Linked DNA regions of Homo sapiens: region 1 is reported to be linked to region 2. The links are microRNA targets in miRTarBase. Many come from high-throughput screens and were not tested one by one. Region 2 holds a microRNA gene; the other region holds the end of a gene's coding sequence.
Evidence for each region. The annotated mature microRNA hsa-miR-876-3p reads UGGUGGUUUACAAAGUAAUUCA and lies in region 2 at 1,837-1,858, shown strand. An mRNA with a match to its seed (bases 2 to 7 or 8) in the 3' UTR can be bound and repressed. Matches are read on the target gene's strand: a 7mer-m8 pairs with bases 2 to 8, a 7mer-A1 pairs with bases 2 to 7 and ends in A, and an 8mer does both.

Region 1: the mRNA of EPHB4 is a reported target of hsa-miR-876-3p. Seed matches in the 3' UTR shown: 7mer-A1 at 4,463-4,469.

What each region holds. Positions count from the first base shown.
Region 1 is chr7:100,798,547-100,803,876 of GRCh38, forward strand. EPHB4 (EPH receptor B4) reads right to left here. Exons shown (of 17, transcript NM_004444.5): 17 at 4,019-5,044. The coding sequence ends at 4,915. Among named protein-coding and RNA genes, the nearest start is that of EPHB4, 26 kb to the right of the region's middle. RefSeq lists enhancers at 917-976, 2,920-3,623, 3,624-4,326 and a silencer at 981-1,275.
Region 2 is chr9:28,860,111-28,865,493 of GRCh38, reverse strand. It overlaps MIR876 (microRNA 876), which reads left to right and starts at 1,788; the gene lies at 1,788-1,868. All of the region lies in intron 2 of LINGO2 (leucine rich repeat and Ig domain containing 2), which reads left to right.

The sequences.
Region 1 (5,330 bases), not on the chromosome of region 2:
GGTGAGGGTGTTGTCCCTTAGAGAAAGCCACATGCGGGTGGCACATTCAGTCCCGGCGAGGCTGACATCACTAGGGGAGACAGAAGGAGCAGGGAGGGCAGAAGGAACAGGGCGGGCAGGGGAATGGAGGGTGGGATGCAGCCCCAGACCCTCGGCTTCTGATTTAGGAGAAGACTTCACCTCAGGAATCCGAGTGCTTAGAGGACGTGGCCTCTGGCTCCCCACCAAGGTGATTCTGAGAAATTTTACATGTCAAGTACAGACTAAGGTTGGGGAATGTGGCTTTTTTTTCTTTTTCTTTTTTTTTAGAGACAAGGTCTCACTCTGTTGCCCAGGCTAGAGTGTAGTGGTGCAGTCATAGCTCACTGCAGCCTTGACCCCCGGGGCTCAAACGATCCTCCCATCTCAGCCTCCTGAGTAGCTGGGACTACAGGCATGCACCACTACGCCTGGCTAATTTTGATATTTTTTAGAAGAGATAGGGTCTCACTATGTTGCCTAAACTGGTCTTGAACTCCTGGGCTCAAAGAGCTCAGCCTGCCTCCACCTCCCAAAGTACAAGGAATACACGTGACCACCTTACCCAGCCAAACGTGGCCTGCCCGCCTTTCCTTCCTTCCTTCCTTCCCTCCTTCCTTCCTTCCTCCATCCTTTCCTCCCTCCTTCCCTTCCTTTTCTTCCTCTTACTCTCTCCTTCCTTCGTTTTTCCTTCCTTCCTTCCTTCCTTCCTTCCTTCCTTCCTTTCTCCCTCCCTCCCTCCCTCTCTCTCTCTCTCTCTCTGTTTTCTTTCTTTCTCTCTCCCCTCTGTCCCTCCCTTCCTTATTTAGAGACAGGTGCTTCCTCTGTTACCCAGGCTGGAGTGCAGTGGCGCAATCATAGTTCACCCCCCAAAGTCCCTCCCACACCTCCTCGAGGGAACAAAACATGGGTGATGTGTCACCAAGGGAAGAGGGGACAGAGGACTCAAGAGCCCGAGGGACCCCAGAAGAGGGCTGTAGAGGTGAGAAATTGAGGGCAAGTCTCCCTGGGCTGGGAAGGGCCCAAGCTGTGATTTGGGGTCCAGCACTGACACAAACACGACAACAGGGGGCGACTGAGGTGCAGAAGTGGAAAAAGCAGGTCGGGCGTGGTGTAATCCCAGCGCCTTGGGAGGCTGAGGGGGAGGACTGCTTGAGGCCAGGAGTTTGAGATCAACCTGGGCAACATTATGAGGCCCCCTGTCTCTACAAAGAATAAAACATCAGCTGGGCATGGTGGCGTGCGCCTGGAGGATTCCCAACTACTCAGGAGGCTGAGATGGGAGCTTGAATTCTTGGGCTCAAGCCTCAGCCTCTCAAGTAGCCAGGACTATAGGCGCATGTCACCACGTCCTGGCTAAAAAAAGTGGCTTTTTCCAAAAAAAGCAAATCAGCCTGTGACCCTCTGGAGAGGCCCCCACCCCCGGTATTCCTCCATTTTCCAAAAGGGGCTAGGGGTTACTGAGGGCGGGGTCTGGGGTCTGGGTTGCTGAAGAATTCTGACCTCTATCCTACTAGGAGTGACCCACTCACCCCAGCCTGAGGCCAAGGTGCAAACATCCCGCCCCCTCCCTCGGGACCTCTGCCTCCCATCAGGCAGGTCCTTGCTTGGAAGTGGGGGCTGGGACGTCTTGCTTGTGCTCTAAGAAGGAAGGCTTGCTGGGTGCGGTGGCTCACACCTGTAATCCCAGCACTTTGGGAGGCCGAGGCGGGCGGATCACGAGGTCAGGAGATCGAGACCATGCTGGCTAACACGGTGAAACCCCATCTCTACTAAAAATACAAAAAAAAATTAGCCGGGTGTGGCAGCTGGCGCCTGTAGTCCCAGCTACTCAGGAAGCTGAGGCAGGAGAATGGCGTGAACCCGGGAGACAGAGCTTGCAGTGAGCTGAGATCGTGCCACTGGAAGGAATGGAAGGCTGCCAATTGGGCTGGGGGAAGATCAGGATGTAGGACCCCAAAGGGGATTTGGGTTTGGGGATGTCAAAACGGAGGACAGGCTGGGTGTGGTGGCTCACGCCTGTAATCCCAGTGCTTTGGGAGGCTGAGGAGGGAGAATTGCTTGAGATCAGGAGTTGGAGACCAGCTTGAGCAACATAGCGAGTCCCTGTCTCTACAAAAATGTAAAGAATTATTGGGTGACTGAGGCGGGAGGATTGTTTGAACCCAGGAGTTCCAAGCTGCAGTGAGCTATGACTGCACCACTGCACTCCAGCCTGGGCAACAGAACGAGACCCTGTCTCTAAAGAAACAACCAACCAACCAACCAACCAGGGAGGATACTGAGTTCTAGAAATGTGTTATACTCTGCGCTTATCCTCTGGGATGACACGCCCTGAGGTCACCTTTATGGGAATGAAGCAAGACCCAAACCCGGGAAGGGAGGGTCCTGCCCAGCGAGACTCTCCCTTGCCCTAGCTGGAAGAGCATTCATGGTGGGGAGCTGGATGTGGCAGGAAGGCTCAGGGCAGCCTGGAGCTCTTGGGGCTGGACCTCAGGGGGCTTCTGCAGCCCCCTGCCCTGACCCCAGCTCCCCACACCGGGTCTTCACTCTTGGCCTCTCTGCTGCACCTCTGCAATGCCCATTAACCTTTCTTTCTCCAGCTACAGCTCTCTAGGACACCTTATCTAGCCCGGATGTCTGGTTGGCAGGGGAAGAGGGTGGGCCTGGGCAACATCCTCTGGATGGACCCCCCGAGTCCCTCCCACACCTCCTCAGGGGTACAAAACATGGGTGATGTGTCACCAAGGGAAAGGGGACAGAGAAGAGCCTGAGGGACTCCAGAAGAGGGCTGTAGAGGTGGGAAATTGAGACAAGCCTCCCTGGACCGGGAAGGGCCCCAGCTGTGATTTGGGGTCCAGCACTGACCCAAACACGTCAACAGGGGGCGACTCAAGTGCAGAAATGGAAAAAGGTTGGGCGCGGTGGCTCACGCCTGTAATCCTAGTACCTTGGGAGGCTGGGAGGGGAGGATAGCTTGAGGCCAGGAGTTTGAGATCAGCCTGGGCAACATTGTGAGACCCCCCCCAACCCGTCTCTACAAAAAATAAAAAAAATCAGCTGGGTGTGGTAGTGTGTGCCTGGAGGATTCCCAGCCACTCGGGAGGCTGAGATGGGAGGATCCCTTGCGCCCAGGAGTTCAAGGTTACAGTGAACTATGATCATTCCACTGCACTCCAGCCTGAGTGACAGAGTGAGGCCCTGTCTCAAAAAAAAAAAAAAAAAAAAAAAAAAAAAGAAAAAGAAAAAGAAAAAGCAATGGACCAGGTTAAGCCAGGCTGGTCCTTGTCAAGACCTGCCCCTGCAGGTGCCCGGGGGGAGGCCAGAAAGATCCCTGGAGAAAAGGACACAGAAAATGGCAAGAAAGAAAGCGGGGCATTTGGAGGGGTAAGTTGGGGGAAGACAGGAGGTTCCCCCTCCCCTTTCCAAGAGGCAGGGAGAACCTGCCCGGGCAGCATCTTGAATGGGAGAATTGTCCTCGGCGCGCGCTTATCGCTTGTGTACACACGTGGGGGGGTCCCTTCTTCCCTTCCCCCACAGCCAATGCAGACACTCTCCCCGCACTGCCTCTAAATCTACCCCAGCTGTCAACATCTGGCCCCCATCTGTGTCCATCCACGGAACCCCCTGCTCCAGCTCCTGCCCCAGCCTCCCTCTCCAGTGGCTGTCGGGCAGGGCTGGGAGCTCAAGGCCTTCCCTCCCTCTCCTGCAGCAGCCTCTGGCCAGGACTGAGGAACCAGGACAGGGGAGGGAGGGGACAGCCCCACCCCGGAGGTGCCCCAGGCTCTTGGCAGAGCCAGCTGGAGACGTTAGAAGCAGCTGCGAATGATTCATCTCGCTCGGCCCCCACCCCACCACCTCAAACATACCCTGGGGCTGATAACCAAGTTCCAGCCCCTACAGCCCTGCAGCCTCCAGACCTCTGACACCTCTCGGTCAGCCACAAAGCCCTCCCTACCCAGCCCCACTCTCCTTAGAAATCTAGTCCATCACCCCCATCACCCCTGGAGCTGGGACACGTCCCATTTTCTTTTATTTATACAAAAAGTTACTTTTTTAAATATAATTTAAGAACCCCTCCAAGCACCGGCGTCCGTTTCTGGGTTCCACCACCAACTACCGCCCTTTTCACTACCTCACCCCACACCCCTTCATAGGACACAGCTTGGGGGTCCCAGGCGGGGTCCGGGGATGTGGGATGACCAAGGCACTGTTCTGGAAACAGACATGATGATGGGCCCCTGTTTCAACTTGGGCAAAGGAGGCCATAGTGAAACAGGTTCCCTCCAACACAAAGTTATGACAAGGACGGTAGAAAAACAAAACGAAGAAACAAAAAGGGAACGGGGAGAAAAATTAAGACCAAAAACAAAACTCAAAAACCTTCAATATGAAGGCAGCAGCTGGGGGAGGGGCATTTACAAGGGAAAAAAATGATTGAGTTTGGTGGTGACAGCAGCAAGTTGGGACTACAAACCCCAATGATTTTGTCACTGGGCCCTGACACCCCTTCTTGCCCCCTGGGACAGCCCCCCCACTCTGGAGCTGGCAAGGGAGTCACACTCTCTTTGGTCTGCGGGAACGCACCCATCAAGGTGAGGGGGGCACCTGGGGAGGCTGGGAGATGTTGGGCACTTCCTTTTCCTCTGGTCACACCCAGTCCTGAGGGAAAGGCGCCCTCACCCTTGGTCTGGAGTTCCCCGAGGTGGCTGGGGGGTGATTTTCCCCTCCTATTATGGCAGAACCCCCAAATCCTGTCTCTCCAAATTGCCAACTCCTCACCCCACGGGCTCAAAGTGCAATCCAGCGGGGCACAGGGCTGGGGGCCTCTGTGAGTCCCCACTCTGCCCCGGAAAATGGGGAGGCGGTGTCCCTGGGGTGGGGAGTTCCTGCAGGTCAGTACTGCGGGGCCGGTCCTCCTGTCCCACCCGGGGTTCCCGGCTTGGCCTGGGACTTCATGTGCTGGACACTGGCCAAGATTTTCTTCTGGTGTCCCGCCAGAGTGACTCCGATTCGGAGCAGGTCCCTGCAGAAGGAAAGGAGAGCTTGGTGAGACCCTAGGTTCCCTGTGGCCGCTCTCCTCTCTTGGCTCCTGAGACGGTCCTAGCCTCAGGATTGTAAGCCAATCAGAAAAGCCAGCGGGGGAGGGAGAACAGATGTCAACAGTTCCCGGGCAGTTTTTTTAAGAGCTGGGCAGCCATCCTTCTGTGCAACCGCAGAAGGGGGTAGGGCTGGAGGCCAGAGGCAGGGCCTTTGGCTTGGGTGCCAGGGAAGGAAAGAAAAGAGAGAAAAGCCCGCAAAATGAGACTGGG
Region 2 (5,383 bases):
TTTGTTTTTAAACCCATGTCAAACTCTAAATGTATTCCACCCAACTAGTATGCCTGAATTTCACTGGGGAAACTGGCCTGATTCTTCAAGAGGTTTTGCCTGGGCCAGTTTGGGATTGAGTGTGACACTTGATGAAGAGCTGGAGGACCTTTGTATAACTGCTCCTTTACTCTGCCCATATTTCAGACAGGTTGCCTCATTATTCTGGAGTTCTCTTACTTCAAATTTTTCTGTCCCTGCTGCCTCTGATCTGGTGATGCTCACTTGTGTTCACCTACTCTAACTGTAGCAGCAGTTTTCCTTTTCAGCTATAGTATACCAAAAAATAAAATAAAAATCACGTTATTTCTTTGGATAGGCCGTGGTATATGTGTTCTCTTCTGCTTAGAACACTTACCCCACCCTTCTCATTGCTAATTCCTGCTACTCTTTCAGTTCTCTTATATATGGTATTCCCTTAGAGAAGACATCTGTAATCAACGCTCTTAGCACTGAATTAAGTGGCCTCTCCATGTCTCCATTAGCCCTATATGGAAACTTTTCATAACACCTATTACTGCTTTTTTCAAATTCTTGTTTTCTCCTTTGTATTTCTTGAAACCTGGAGTTTTTATATCCCCAGCATCTAACCAAGACTATGCCTGGCACATGATAAGCGCAAAACAAATATTTTTTTTTCATACATACATATTTTCTACAAATTTTTTATTTAAATATTTTTAATTATTCAGATACTTAGCAAGTTTGGCTTGGTTGTTATATGTGTGGTTGGTGGAGGTGAGTAGGGTATTCCTGAGCAGTGACCTACACTGACAGTGGTGAACTGCCTAGGACTCTTATGTTCATGAGCTTCTATAAAGCAAACTTTTAATTAATGTTGACATTTGATGGTTACTTTGAAAAATGTTGAAATTTTCAAAAGCATGAATTACTTGATTGATATTATGCTTACTAGGCTGGGAAGATTTATAGATTCTTTTCATTAATTATAAATGAAACCTTTCTTTTTGCTCTTTAGATAAAAGTTAAAAGGTGGGATTCTGGTTATTTTGCAAAGGAGAGTAACTTTATTGTTTGTTTTTCATTTTTTATTGGTGTGGTTTTCTTTCAGAGTTGAACCTAATATGTATAATATAGAATTTAGTTTTATAAACATTCTTGGACTTCAGCAGTCATATGAAAAAATACTTACTTGGACAAATATCAGAGGAAAAAACACTCAGGTTAAACTCATTTAATGATTGCCTTTGAACTTTTATTTTAAGTTCAGGGGTACAAGGGCAGATTTGTAACATTGGTAAGCTTGTGTCATAGGATATGAGATTATATGAGTATAAAGTGGGAAGCTAAGTAACTGAGGATATCTTTAGAACAAATTATCCCAGCAACACTTATATACTGTGATATGGATGTGAGAATTACATATAGTTTTATTATTTATTCTACTCCCTACTCCTGACATCTATATTAATAACCATGCCCTTTTATTTTGATGAGCAGAACCCTGTTTTTTCATCCTGCATAATGTCATGCTAGTTATTGTATTAGGAATTCTTTTAAATGAAATTTACTGGTATATAATATAGAAAGCATGCATTTATTTTTAAGTTTTATTTACTTAAAATAAATGTTCAGTGTTTCTTGTGTGTTTCAGCTAAAAGAGGGTGGTGCAAAACTGAGCATATTCTTCAATTGATTGTGAACTAGATGGAAATACTTCCTCAACTTTTGGTGGCCAAAGGGTACTGTTTTTGTTGGTTCATAGGTACCAGGCTTTACACAAACTGTGAAGTGCTGTGGATTTCTTTGTGAATCACCATATCTAAGCTAATGTGGTGGTGGTTTACAAAGTAATTCATAGTGCTTCACAGGTGCTTCTGCAGTTGATCTACACCATGAAGCCTAAGATTCCTTTACTGAGCCATTGAGAACAAGCCACTTTGTATTACAAGACACACAAAGTCAAGAGATCCCTGGTAAATATACTCTAGAATCCTTCTATTTGGTGCTTAGTGTTAACAGTGATCAAACCTGTGTCAAACACACCAGAAATTATGGTTACTTTACCTAAATATACATGTTTTACATAGTTGCTGTCTCTGTCTCTACTGTTCTTTTTTTGAAAAGTAATTTGTAATATTTCTTGGTTAAAAAAACATGATACATCAGAAACATTAATTGAATCAGCCCCTTAAATCCTAAGCATACCATTTTGAAGTTTAAATATCATATTTTATTTGGATTATTATGCCCAATTAATATATTAATTAAATAGTTTGGTAAATGATCAGGGGCTTGAAGACATCATTGTTATGCAGTACTTTTGTAAAAAGCAACATTTTATTTTAACAAGAAAAACATTGGTGTGGGCAAAAAAAATCACCTTAACATACCAAATTGTACATTTTGATGGCATATATTAAAATTAGGTATTCACTGGGCATTCATTTTCATTTACTCTTCTGGAAACAGTATCTATAGTCCTATTCTATGACAGAAAAGATTGTGTAACCTTTACAAGGTCACAAAAGCCTAATTGTTGACTAGTAATTGCTTATTAAAATAAATGGAACTTTGTGGTCATTTCTGTCATCAGGATTACCAAGAATGGATTATCCCTGACCATAAATCAAACAATTGATGATTAACTATTTTAATAACTGATTAAGCTTTCAAATAGTCATTTTGGTTTTACCGTTTTTTATTTATTTCCAAGGCTAGAGCGTAGGTCTTATTTAAGTTCAATGGTATGACTATAAGACTGTCAGAACTATGAAAACTTCTGACCTTTAATTTCTTAAGTGACACATCTGGACACCTAAGTGACAGTGGTACAGGCTTCTGAAATTACTTTTGCATCATCATTGAATATATCTATTGTATTCATTATGACTTTATTTTGTCCTGTTATGTTTCATTCCTTAGAAGTGGATTATGCATATGCTCTATAAGGTTGGGTGACTTTAAATAAATTAGCATACTAATTTTTAAGCCCTTCTGTTAGATAAAAGAAAATCAGTATATTATTTTTCAACATATAAATGACCAAAAGAATGAATCAATATGTATACTTTTAACCTTAAAATATATGTGTATAAATATGATTGGAAATGCTTTACCTAAGAAATATCTTGCTACTCTAATTTAATTTGAACTATGATACAAACATGTTATTCTTATTTCCTAGCCTTTAATTCTTCAGTATTTATTATTACCATTCCTTGTCTGATACATATGTAACCTTATTTTTCATAGGACTGTATGTTCATAAGCAAAATCCACAGAGCTCTGGGATTTCCTGTGCTTTTGTTGGGTGCTACTTTGCTGATGTGTGAGGACAGGTGGGAAAAGAGTCTGAGAAGACAGGTTTCTGAAATTAATTTGTCCTAGAGCTCTTTGATTTTTCTGTTTTATGAAAGGGGGCACCTGTAAAATTTCCTTTGAGCCGAAGCTTATGTTTTTAATGATAATATGTAGAACTGCTGATATATGAATTTAGAAGGAAGTCACAATATTTTTTCTTAAGATAATTTTTAGTTTACGGGAGATATAATGGGATGTGCTAATGGACTAATAAGCATATCTCATAATCATGTACCTATATCCTTGTATCCTAATTTTAATCCCAACTTCTTTATATTTATTTCACTACCGCTTTTTTTATTTTTAAGATAAATACAGGTTTACAAACAATGAATTAATTTTTAGTGTAGGTTTTGTGTTTTTTGGTAAGAGACAAAAAACATATGTTGCCCTGGCTGGGGTGCAGTGGTGCAATCATAGCTCACTTCAGCCTTGATTTCCTGGGTTCAAGCAATCATCCCACTTCAGTCTCCTGAGGAGCTGGGACTACAGTGCCTGCCACCATGCCCAGCTAATTTATTTTATTTTGTTTTATTTTATTTTATTTTATTTTTGTAGCAACACAATCTCACTAGATACTCATGCTTGAGTGCAGTTATGAGTAGAACATGTGTTCAAAGTGAACCTGAGGTCTCCTGTTATGGACAAGGTAATATCAAGCTTCCCTAATTTCTGTGAGAACTATATGAGAATAGATATGTTTAAATGAATGTTATCTGTGAGAATTTTCTAGAGAACAGAACCAACAAGATTTTTGTGTGTATATATATATTAAATATGTATATATATTAATAATATATATTATATATAGTATATTATATAAAATATATAATATATAAAATATATAATATATAAATATTATATATTTTATATAATATTGTATAAAAAATATATATTATATATTTATATAATATTATATAAAAAATATATAATATATAAAATATATTAATATAAATATATTTTATATATTTATATAATATAAATTATATAAAAATTTATATAATTTATATTATATAAATATATTTTATATATTTATATAATTTATATTATATATTTATATATTAATAATACATATTATACATTTATATATTAATAATATGTATTATATAATATATTATATTATATATTAATAAATATAATATATTATAGATTTATATATTAATGATATATAATATATTATATATATTATTTTTTACCTTTTTTTATTTATAAGGCTAGAGCTTAAGTCTTATTTAACTTCAATGCTATGACCACAAGACTGTCAGAACTCTGAAAACTTCTGACCTTTAGTTTCTTAAGTGACACATTTGTACAACTAAGTGACAGTGATACAGACTTCGGAAATTGCTTTTGCATCATCATTGACTATATCTATTGTATTCATTTTGACTGCATTTTGTCCTGTTATGTTTCATTCTTTAGAAGTGGATTATGCATATATATATATATATATGAAATATATATATGACTATACATGACAGATTATATATATGCATCTTTATATATAGAGAGAGAAATAAAGACTATCTATCTATCTATCCATCTATCTATCTTTCTTCTATCTATAGAGAGAGGGATTTATCATAAGTAATTGGCTCACATAATTGTGGAAGCATGGCAAGTCCAAAATCCGATGAGATGGGGCAGCTGTCTGGAGGCTCAGGGCAGATTTGCAGTTCAAGTCCAAGTGCAATCTAATCTTCTGGCAAAATTATTTCAAGCATGGGGAAGGTCAGTCTTTGTCTATTAAGGATTTCAACTTATAGGTGAGGCCTACCCACATTATAGAGGGAAATCTGTTTTATTTCAAAGGGTACCAATTTTGATGTTATTCTCTTCCAAAAATCACCTTCACAAAAATATCTAGCATAATGTCTGACCAAATATCTGGGCACTATGGTGCAGTCACGTTGACAAATAAAATTAATCTTCACAGTAAAAATGGTATTTTTCCAATGAAATAAATTTTTGATTTTCAAACAATAAGTTGGTGTTCTTTGTAAGATTTTCTTAATTATTT